Linked DNA regions of Homo sapiens. The protein of the gene in region 3 interacts with the protein of the main gene of each other region in a pairwise test. Each region holds a gene or a part of one and is shown on either strand. Other genes may lie near its edges.

Evidence for each region.
Region 1: the proteins of GOT2 (region 3) and THOC7 interact in a two-hybrid assay, tested with the Homo sapiens proteins (one large-scale study listed by BioGRID and IntAct).
Region 2: the proteins of GOT2 (region 3) and GLRX interact in a two-hybrid assay, tested with the Homo sapiens proteins (one large-scale study listed by BioGRID and IntAct).

What each region holds. Positions count from the first base shown.
Region 1 is NC_000003.12:63,853,768-63,857,423, reverse strand, and holds part of THOC7 (THO complex subunit 7), read left to right. Parts: intron 1-3,656. UniProt on the Homo sapiens protein: Component of the THO subcomplex of the TREX complex which is thought to couple mRNA transcription, processing and nuclear export, and which specifically associates with spliced mRNA and not with unspliced pre-mRNA.
Region 2 is NC_000005.10:95,813,322-95,816,666, forward strand, and holds the end of GLRX (glutaredoxin-1), read right to left. Parts: intron 3,306-3,345; coding exon 3,192-3,305; 3' UTR 3,186-3,191; exon of another isoform or gene 3,175-3,185; intron 1,637-3,174; exon of another isoform or gene 1,069-1,636; 3' UTR 528-1,068; downstream 1-527. UniProt on the Homo sapiens protein: Has a glutathione-disulfide oxidoreductase activity in the presence of NADPH and glutathione reductase. Reduces low molecular weight disulfides and proteins.
Region 3 is NC_000016.10:58,713,735-58,717,390, reverse strand, and holds part of GOT2 (aspartate aminotransferase, mitochondrial isoform 1 precursor), read left to right. Parts: intron 1-577; coding exon 578-728; intron 729-1,211; coding exon 1,212-1,377; intron 1,378-3,656. UniProt on the Homo sapiens protein: Catalyzes the irreversible transamination of the L-tryptophan metabolite L-kynurenine to form kynurenic acid (KA). As a member of the malate-aspartate shuttle, it has a key role in the intracellular NAD(H) redox balance.

The DNA.
Region 1 (3,656 bases), on a different chromosome or scaffold from region 3:
TTAAAGTAGGTCAAATCAAGCCAGTTTTCTTTGTTGTTGTTAACATATCATAGCTTTATTCAGTAACGGAGTAGAATTTTTAATACAGAGAAAATGAAGTACCTGAGAATGATAAATAAGTTTACCACCCAGTTAACCACTGTTACTACTTCATAAAAAAAGTACTACATGTCAGTAAATTCAAGAAGAAATGCACAATATGAAAAATGAAAACCTTCCCCTCTTTACCTTCCGTAATAATTCCTCTCCCAGAATGATTTTTAATGCCTCTAAAAGGTAAAAGTATCTTCTCTGGAGCCTGACTCCTGAGTTTGAGTTCCATTTCTATTCCTTACTTCCTGTGACATTTAATTTTTGGCAAGATGCTTTTTCATTGGTAAAATAGGGATAAGAATATCTATAATGAGGCCGGGCAAGGTGGCTCACGCCTGTAATCCCAGCACTTGGGGAGGCCGAGGCGGGTAGGTCACGAGGTCAGGCGTTCAAGACCATCCTGGCTAACACGGTGAAACCCCGTCTCTACTAAAAATACAAAAGAATTAGCTGGGCGTGGTAGCGGGCGCCTGTAGTCCCAGCTACTTGGGAGGCTGAGGCAGTAGAGTGGCATGAACCTGGGAGGCGGAGCTTGCAGTGAGCCGAGATAGCGCCACGCACTCCAGCCTGGGCAACAGTGCAAGACTCTGTCTAAAAAAAAAAAAAATCTATAATGCTGTTGTGTAGATTAAGTGTGTTTATATGTGAAAAGCATCTAAAGCAGTCCTTAGCATATTTAAGTGTTACGTATCTGCTGGCTAGTATACCAGTGGGTATATATGCTTGAAAATTTTATACAGTCATTTACACACTGGTCTGTATTCAACTTCTGTGTACCCATAAAATTTTTTTTAAGTGATATAGTAGGTGCGTATATTTATGGGGTACATGAGATATTTTGATACATGCATACAATGCAAAATAATCACAGCAGGGTAGATAGGATATCCATTGTCTTCAAGCATTTATCATTTGTTATAAACATTCTAGTTATGCTCTTTTAGTTGGTATAAAATGTGCAATAAATTATTGTTGACTATAATCATCCTATTGTGCTATCAAATACTAGATCCTATTCACTCTATGTTTTTGTACTAATTAAGCATCCCCGCCCCTCCCCTGCCACCACACACCCCACAGCTCTTCCCAGCCTCTCGTAACCATCTCTATTTTCTACCTCCATGAGTTCAGTTGTTTCAATTTTTAGCTTATCATGGAGCTCTTTTGAATATAAATCTACCTTATTCTTTTATATCAGTGTGTATAGTCTATTAATTTTTTAGACAGATCCTCTATTGGCATTTAGTTTGTTTTCAGTTTTTTACTCTTCCAAACAGTGTTACAATGGAGATATTTGCATAGATATATTCGCGTACTTGTGGGAATAATTTCTAAAAGATAAGTCAAAAGGTATATGTGTCTTTAATTTTGGTATATCTTGCTGTAATGCCTTAGTAGCTAGCTGTTTTCCCCACTATAATCCTGTCTGAAATTGTTATCCCTTCCTGTGGCTTTCAGTTTGGTACCTACCAAATTTTTTGCCAAACTGCATTTAGAAAGGAAATGCTAATCCTCACTGGTAGATCACAGGATTACTAGTTCACAAAGGCAGGTGAGATTGCAGCCTTCCCTCAAAGGGAACCACATTTGACCTGCAATTTAGCCTTAGCAAGGAGTTACATAACAATGATGCTATTGCCTCTGGTTGTCAAGCCTTGACCTGTCTCTGAAGTTGTTTTGTAATCAAGGTTTTAATGGCAAATATAGGGAAAGAACAATTATGAATTTTGAAAACGTTAGTCTGGGTTTATGAGAAACTCCCTTTTATGCTAAAATGAGAGCACAGCTAAAATGGCTGTGTCATCTGACCAGAGGCCTAGAAATCTAGAGTTGCTCTAGTAACTGTAAAGGAGTCATTTCTTCCTGCCTCTATGTTTATGAAACATAGAGTTTTAAGATCTAAGGACTTTTTGAGGCTTATTTGGTGTCTTGAATAATTTTATATTTCTTCTGGCTATATGTTGGCATATATGTATCCCATTTTGCAAGTAAATATTTACATTTCAGCATAAATGTGTCATTACTGATTTTAAACTGATTTTGAAAGATATTTTGTATGTGCAATTATGGTATAACGAAATCCAGTAGGAAGTCATAAGTTCTAGAATTGTGATAATAGTCTACTGTTAAACCAATCCTGTTTTTTTATGTTTTCAGTGGTTAACATTTAGGCATATTGGATATGAGGCATTTTGATGAGCAAATATGTATCTCATGCCCCTGCCTCATAGACAGTATACTCTAGACAATGTGTGGTCATATTACTCACTAATTAATACGTGAAGTTAATTGCTGCCTCCTTTTCTTTCTTTTTTTTTTTTTTGAGACGGAGTCTCGCTCTGTCGCCCAGGCTGGAGTGCAGTGGCGGGATCTCGGCTCACTGCAAGCTCCGCCTCCCGGGTTCACGCCATTCTCCTGCCTCAGCCTCCCAAGTAGCTGGGACTACAGGCGCCCGCCACTACGCCCGGCTAATTTTTTGTATTTTTAGTAGAGACGGGGTTTCAGCGTTTTAGCCGGGATGGTCTCGATCTCCTGACCTCGTGATCCGCCCGCCTCGGCCTCACAAAGTGCTGGGATTACAGGCGTGAGCCACCGCGCCCGGCCCTCCTTTTCTTGACTCAGATTCACACTCCACAGTCTTTCCAGGAGCTAGATGGATGGTATTATCCAGCCATTGTCCTACAAGCCTAAAGCCAGGTGGAAAACCACCATCCTCACAGCAGGTGTCAAGTATTTTGGTTTAGAAACTCTTTCCAGATGATGTTCATCCTCATAGTAAAGAAAGTAATTATGACAAGGAGTGATGTTGATAACATAAAAAAAATAACAAAAAATCTGCTAAGCCATCTTTACTGTTTTTACAGGATAGACCAAAGCCCAGCAGAATTACTAATATAAGCATTCAAACTGCTTACAGAGGGTTTCAAGCATGATAATTTGTGAAGTCAACATGTATAGTAAACAAAACATATTTTAAGTGTGTTCATTATGGAGCTAATTGATAAGATGTCATTAAAAATAATAATGCTCATGGCATTTGTGTTAGGAACTATCAGCAGCAGTCCATCTTTAAATTTAAAAAGAACAGAGGCTATTCTCAAACTGAGAGCTTACCTTTTTGTTTTATTCTGTTTCTGTTGGAGCTGTGCTCTGTACTTTATACATGTTATTTCAATAATTCTTGTCCACAGAGTTTTCTAGGCAGCAACTCTCTGTGCACAATTTCAGCTAGAAACGCCATGACCTTCCCAGTAAATTTGAGACAGAAGCAAATTTGTAAGGAATCCTAACTGGGCAAAACTTGATATGCATAAATGCCTAATATGTATCTACATAGATATATCTATAGATAAATCTTCAACATTTACTCTGACTTTTATAGGATGATACAAGTTGTGGATTAAATTTTTTTTTTTTTTTTTTGAGACGGAGTCTCGCTTTGTCACCCAGCCTGGAGTGCAGTGGCGCGACCTTGGCTCACTGCAAGCTCCACCTCCCGGGTTCACGCCATTCTCCTGCCTCAGCTTCCCGAATAGCTGGGACTACAGGCGCCCGCCACTATG
Region 2 (3,345 bases), on a different chromosome or scaffold from region 3:
TATCTACATGCACAGTGTTTTTGAATTCCAGAAGAGGGAACGATGATTTTTCAGTCAAAAGGCCATGAGAGGAGAGAGAAAATATAGGGGAAATGATCTGTAAATCAGGCCTTGAACGAGGAGGAGTTTCAAAGTAAAACAAAGAAGAAAAGGCATCTCAGGAGAAAGAAACACAATGAACATGGACAAAGAAGTGTGAAAGTGCAGGCAAGTGGTCCAGAGTGGATCAGATACTATAACCTCCGGTGGGAGGGCTTTCATATTGTGCAGTGTGTAAACTGAACAATTATCCATAGCAATCCTGGTGTAAACTGAACAATTATCATAGCAATCCTGGTTGAAGGGAGTGGTTAGGGCCCACAAAAGAAAGAAGCGAGAAGTACAAGGGCCTTAAGTGGGAAATGGCAAAAAGGAATATGAAATGAAAAAGACTGTTATTAAACCCTAAGCATTATTCAGTAAGCCAGGGCTGGCATTTATTTCAATATGAAATTTCAAAATTATATCAGCCATTTGTACTCAGTGAGTGACAGCAGCACGTGTCTTTATTTATAATGGCAGGGCCAAATATAAACACAGTTTTAAGTTAGTGTATTTCGCATAACATTCCTTAATGTCTTGAGAACATGCAAATGAATTGGACAAAAATCACTGAATCATCTATAGGTTTTTTTTATTAGAAAAGAAATTAAGTGTTGTCACTAGAGATTGAAGGAAATTAACAATCTTACAATTCTAGAACAGGCAAACTTCATGATAAGGGATTCTTAAGTTTTCAAAGTGTAGGAGCTCTTTCACAGATACACTCTTGGTGTAGGGGGCTGTAAGTTTTATCAGATGTTTTACATTTCATGCTTTAATCTTTGCTGGTAGTCTAAATAAAATAAATACACAGTGTTCAGGATTATCTGGATAGCCATCTTAAATAACAGAGTGTTCCGCATGACCACAGCCTCTGCACTTGTGCCTCTGATCCATATGACACCAAGACCAACTATGCTTTTCATATGATTTCTCCAATTGGGTCCTGTGACCTTTCACAGAATTGTTGAACATTTCCTATGAGATCTGTGGAGGACAAGGTGGAGAACACTGGTTCAGAGCAGTGATTTTCAAGGTGGGATGGGATGGGGTGGAGTTGAGTGGAGAGATGCATGTAGTTAGAAAGAACACATTCAAAATACCCACTGATTTCATAATACAAACTCCATAAAGTCAAGCAGCAAAATGATTTTAGCTAATGGGCAGTAGCAGATAACCAACTGTGGATTCATCATTGTGGAGAAGGAGTCTGGATAAACATAGTTGAAAAACACTGGCTTAGAGGTAGAGACATGCCGACACATGGAGAACAGTAAGAAACGCATGCCAAAGAGGACAATTGAGGGTCAGTGAGCGAATCCTGGGCCAGAACTTGTCACAGTCTTCTGAAAACCAAAGAGCACATCCAGAAGAAAACCAAGATGGCCCGTCAACCTTCTTGGCCCTGTGATTAAGAGCAAGTTGGTCCACTTTTAAATACTGAGCCAAAAGAGGAAAAAAGCTGTTTGTGCCCCCAAATTCATCCACCAGAAGTGCTGTCATCATTTGCAATGCCATCCAGCTCTTGAGGAGGGACGTCAGCATGGGGCCTGTTCTGCCAGGAAAGAAAGAAGGGATCTCCTTGTAAGGCAAAATCCTTCCTTTCTCTCATTACCAGAACACTTACACCTGCCATTTAAACACACTCTGTTGCAGATGGCCTTGAGATGCAGCTGCCAGTAAAATACTGACAGCATAGAACACTGAAGGAAAAGGCCAAATGCAAATAAGGAGACTTTCTGAATATGGGGGACTCTAATGCCCACACCAAAATAGAAGCAGTTGGAGAAATAACATTTCCCATCTTCTCTCATTCTTAATCTAAGCCTAAATTGCTAAACATGTCCCAGAATAGGAAACCATTAATTGGGTTTGAGTGCTTTTAGTACCAGTGGTAAGGCCAGGAAGTGAACTCAGACAGACATAGGGTGCACCTGCTGTGATGATATCGTAGAATTCTGATTAGAAGATTTATAGCATTGACTATTTCATTTCAGAGAAATCAGTGGTATTTTTTCAGACCTTTTTCCCCCTTCTGTTGCTATGCTGAGTAACCATCACAAATAATGTATACTCATTGCCCAAGAAATGAGTTATTAATTAGCAGGCAATAGATACCCCTCCAAGAACATTTTGGTTAAAGAACCATTCATTTCTCCCTCAACTAAAGCAGCATTTACATCTCTCTGGGTACAGGTCTCTGAATTGGCCTGCTTGGGAGCTAGCTAGCGCTAGCTGTGCTGGGGAACTGGGGGAGGGAGGAGCTCAGACTCCAAAACCATCACGGTTCCCTTCTGAAATGTTCATCGCCCTGTGGTTTTCCACAGAGCCAAAGATCTCCTTTAGGTTACTGATTTTAGAAAACTTTGTTTTGGCTTTTGGGAAGCCAATTAAATAGAGTTGATTTGCCAAGTGAACACAGGTAAAGCCAAAATGACCTGTGTTTCACATTGCGTTTTGAATAAATCCAAATTGTTTACCATGGCCTGGGTGCTCTGGCCCCTGCCCACCTTTCTCGCTATTCTTCCTTTTCACTGCACTTCATTCACTCTATTCCTGCTTTCTTTCTGTTCCACGAACATCCCTTACCTGTTGCCACCTCAGAGCCTTTGCACTTGCTATTCCCTCTGCCTGAAAAGCTCTTCTGCTTCATCTCTGCATAGCAGTCCCCTTGTTAACCAGGTCTCAGCTCAACCCTTCCTGAGAAAGGCCCTCCCTTACCATGTTAGCTCAATTTTCTCCCCACCCCATGACATATTCTGTCACATTATTCTATTCTATTTCAGGATTTGCTTGTTTTTGATCTGTCTACCTCTCTAAAATATAAGTTCCAGGTTATCATTTTATGCATCATTATATTCTCATGTGTCTGGCACATGCTTAATAAATATTTCTTAAATGAAGCTTGAGTGAAAGGATTTCTCTCATTGACACGATCTCTTTGTAAAGTGTGAAATTCATAAGTGATTGACATCACCATTCCTCAACTCACCCCAAATCATTTCTTCCCCCAACCAGAATGCTGTCATACAGTATAACAAACCACGACAGAAGAATTCCACGGTCTCCCATGTTCCTGGCCCAGCACCTCACCTGCCACTCACCTGTGGTTACTGCAGAGCTCCAATCTGCTTTAGCCGCGTCAGCAGTTCCCCACTCTGTTGCAAAGAGACTAGATCACTGCATCCGCCTATACAATCTTTACCAATAAAGACTCGAGGCACCTAAAAAAGCACACGACCCAGGACATTACTACATTACTAG
Region 3 (3,656 bases):
TTTTTTTTCTTTTGAGACAGAGTCTCACTCTGTCGCCTTAAGCCAGAACGCAGTGGCACAGTCACAGCTCACAGCAGCCTCTACCTCCAGGGCTCAAACAATCCTCCTACCTCAGCCCCTGAGTAGCTGGGACTACAGACATGTGTGCCACACCTGCCTGGCTAATTCTTCCTATTTTTCACAGAGACAGCATCTCACTTTGTTGCCCAGGCTGATCTCAAACTCCTGGGCTCAAGTGATCCTCCCACCTTGGCCTCCCAAAGTGCTGGGATTATAGACATGGGCCACCATGCCTGGCCAGTTTCCCTTTCTTTAACTTCTGTCAAATCTAAGCTGCAAACAGAATGAGACAGAAACAGCATTTGGAGAGCACTTTCAAGATAAAATGGTTCTAATGATGTTGTCTCGTGAGTCCTGGGTATAAGTTGAGTCTTCCAGGATTACGTTAGCCCCAGAAAAGGCTTATTGTGCTTATTGGGACCATGCCCACCTCACATAAACATCTTTCAGACTTTTATAAACATCTGGGGCCTCTTCAGAAAGACTGCTAAAGCTTCGATCTTTCGTTCCTTCTCAGAAAAGGAATCTCTTTGCGTTCTTTGACATGGCCTACCAAGGCTTTGCCAGTGGTGATGGTGATAAGGATGCCTGGGCTGTGCGCCACTTCATCGAACAGGGCATTAATGTTTGCCTCTGCCAATCATATGCCAAGAACATGGGCTTATATGGTAAGCTACAGCATCCAGCATGACACATGCTCTCATGCTGGGAGAGAATGCCACGAGGGCATAGAGCTTGTGGGTGTGTGTGTGTGTGTGTGTGTGTGTGTGTCCATCCATGTCCATGTCCCTCCCTACCCTAAGATGAAAGACCAGTATCGTAGATTTTACTGATTTTCTTAGCCATATATTCTTCGGTGTCCTTAAGTTTTTCCAGCAAAGGAAACTGATTACTGCTTCTCTAAACAAAAAGTAACAAATCCGTGAGCCAAGAAGATAGATACAATAAAAAATACCTTTGAATACTCTGAGTACTCAAAACTTCCTTGTGCCTCAGTTCACCACTCTGGTTGTTGAAAGCTTTTTATTTATAATAAAGTTATTTTGGGGTCCTTTGGATGGAAACAGATAATACGTAGCAAATACACTCATGATTTGCTTTAGCACATTAGATAGTAGAAGTAGAAGACGAGATCCATTTTTGTCTTTCAGGTGAGCGTGTAGGAGCCTTCACTATGGTCTGCAAAGATGCGGATGAAGCCAAAAGGGTAGAGTCACAGTTGAAGATCTTGATCCGTCCCATGTATTCCAACCCTCCCCTCAATGGGGCCCGGATTGCTGCTGCCATTCTGAACACCCCAGATTTGCGAAAACAATGGTAAAGGTTTATGCCACTCCCCAGCCACCTACCTGTTCCCACCACTGCTCCTTCAAAGTTAGTTTTTAATTGACCTCTAGTGATATACAGTACCCCATAGATTCCATATGTGGAAGGCAGGGAAGGAAGCAAAAAATGTGCATTCCTTTTTTAAAAAATTAAGGCCGGGCACAGTGGCTCACGCCTGTAATCGCAGCACTTTGGGAGGCCGAGGCAGGTGGATCACCTGAGGTCGGGAGTTCGAGACCAGCCTGACCAACATGGAGAAACCCCGTCTCTACTGAAAATACAAAATTAGCCGGATGTGGTGGTGCATGCCTGTAATCCCAGCTACTCGGGAGGATGAGGCAGGAGAATTACTTGAACCTGGGAGGCGAAGGCTGCAGTGAGCCGAGATTGCGCCATTGCACTCCAGCCTGGGCAACAAGAGCAAAACTCCGTCTCAATCTATATATATAGATAGATAGATAGATTGGTTGAGACAGGGTCTTGCTCTGTCACCCAGTCTGGAGTGCAGTGTTGCAATCCTAACTCACTGTAACTTTGTACTCCTGGCCTCAAGCAGTCCTCCAGCCTCAGCCTCCCGAGTATTTGTTAGCACTTTGAACCAAGTTAATTGATATTTCTCTGTAAGAGGCAGTCATAATTTTTAAATGGTAGTTCCTTTTATTCCGTCATCTCCGTGTTAAGTAGAACCTGCTTTCCCCTAAAATCAGTTTCAAATTAAGTACCTTACATAGGAAAACTTCCTTAAAAACATCATATTTTTGTTTGTGTCCTAATAATTGCTAGCATTGAATCCGTATTTTTGCATATGTTTGTATTTTATTGTAGAGACAGGGTCTTGCTGTCTTGCCCAGGCTGGTCTCCTCAAACTCCTGGGCTCAAATGATCCTCCCACCACAGACTCCCTAAGTGCTGGGATTGCAGGTGTGAGCCACTGCACTCAGCTTGTTTTTTATTATCTGTACTATCTGACTCTCAACATCTGTTCTCTGAATTAGTGTTACTAAATTTTTTTGACCACAATCCACATAAGAAATATATTTAAGTCTGGGCACAGTGGCTCACACCTGTAATCCCAACACTTTGGGAGGCTGAGGTGGAAAGATCGTTTGAGACAAGCCTGGGCAACATACTGAAACCCCATCTATAAAATTTTAAAAATATATATTTTACATCATGACCTTGAACATATTATATACTTATATGTGTATATAACTGAAACTGTCTTCCAGACTCAATACTAAAGGCTTCATGTGCTTTACTCGAGTTTTTTGTTTTGTTTTGTTTTTTGTTTTTTTTTAAACAGTCTTGCTGTGTCACCCAGGCTAGAGTGCAGTGGCACAATCACTGCAACCTCCACCTCCTAGGCTCTAGCAATTCTCGTGCCTCAGCCTCCCGAGTAGCTGGGATCACAGGTGTGCACAACGAGACCCAGCTAATTTTTTTTTTTTTTTTTGAGACGGAGTCTCGCTCTGTCGCCCAGGCTGGAGTGCAGTGGCGGGATCTCGGCTCACTGCAAGCTCCGCCTCCCGGGTTCACGCCATTCTCCTGCCTCAGCCTCCCAAGTACCTGGGACTACAGGCGCCCGCCACTACGCCCGGCTAATTTTTTGTATTTTTAGTAGAGACGGGGTTTCGCCATGTTGGCCAGGCTGTTCTCAAACTCCTGGCATCAAGTGAACCACCTGCCTCGGCCTCCCAAAGTGCTAGGATTACAGGCGTGAGCCACCAAGCCCAGCCTCCACTCCAATATTTTCTAAATGCCAACTGCATCTTACTAAGTTGAATTTAACATACTAAGCCAGGTAAGGTGGCTCACACCTATAATCCCAGCATGCATTTTGGGAGGCCAAGGCAGGTGGATCCCTTGAACCCAGGAGTTGGAGACCAGCCTGGGCAACATAGCAAGACTGTGTCTCTATTAAAATAAAAGAAAATAAAAAAATAAAAAATAAAAAAATTAACCTACCAATGGGTCATGACACATAATTTAGAAAACACTGCTGTAGAAAGGGGTTGGCAAACTGTTCTGAGAGTCAATCCAGTTTGCCCCCTATTCTTGTAAATAAAGTTTTATTGGAACACAGCTGTACCCATTTGTTTATGAATTTTGTATAGCTACTTCTTTGCTGCCATGGCCGAGTGAGCAGTTGTAGAAGGCAGAGACCATATGGCCTATAAAGCCTAAAATAATTACTGTTTGGCCATTTACAGAAAGAATGCCAACCCCTACTCTATGAGTTCATAAAACCATGATGCCTGTGGAAGGTGTGA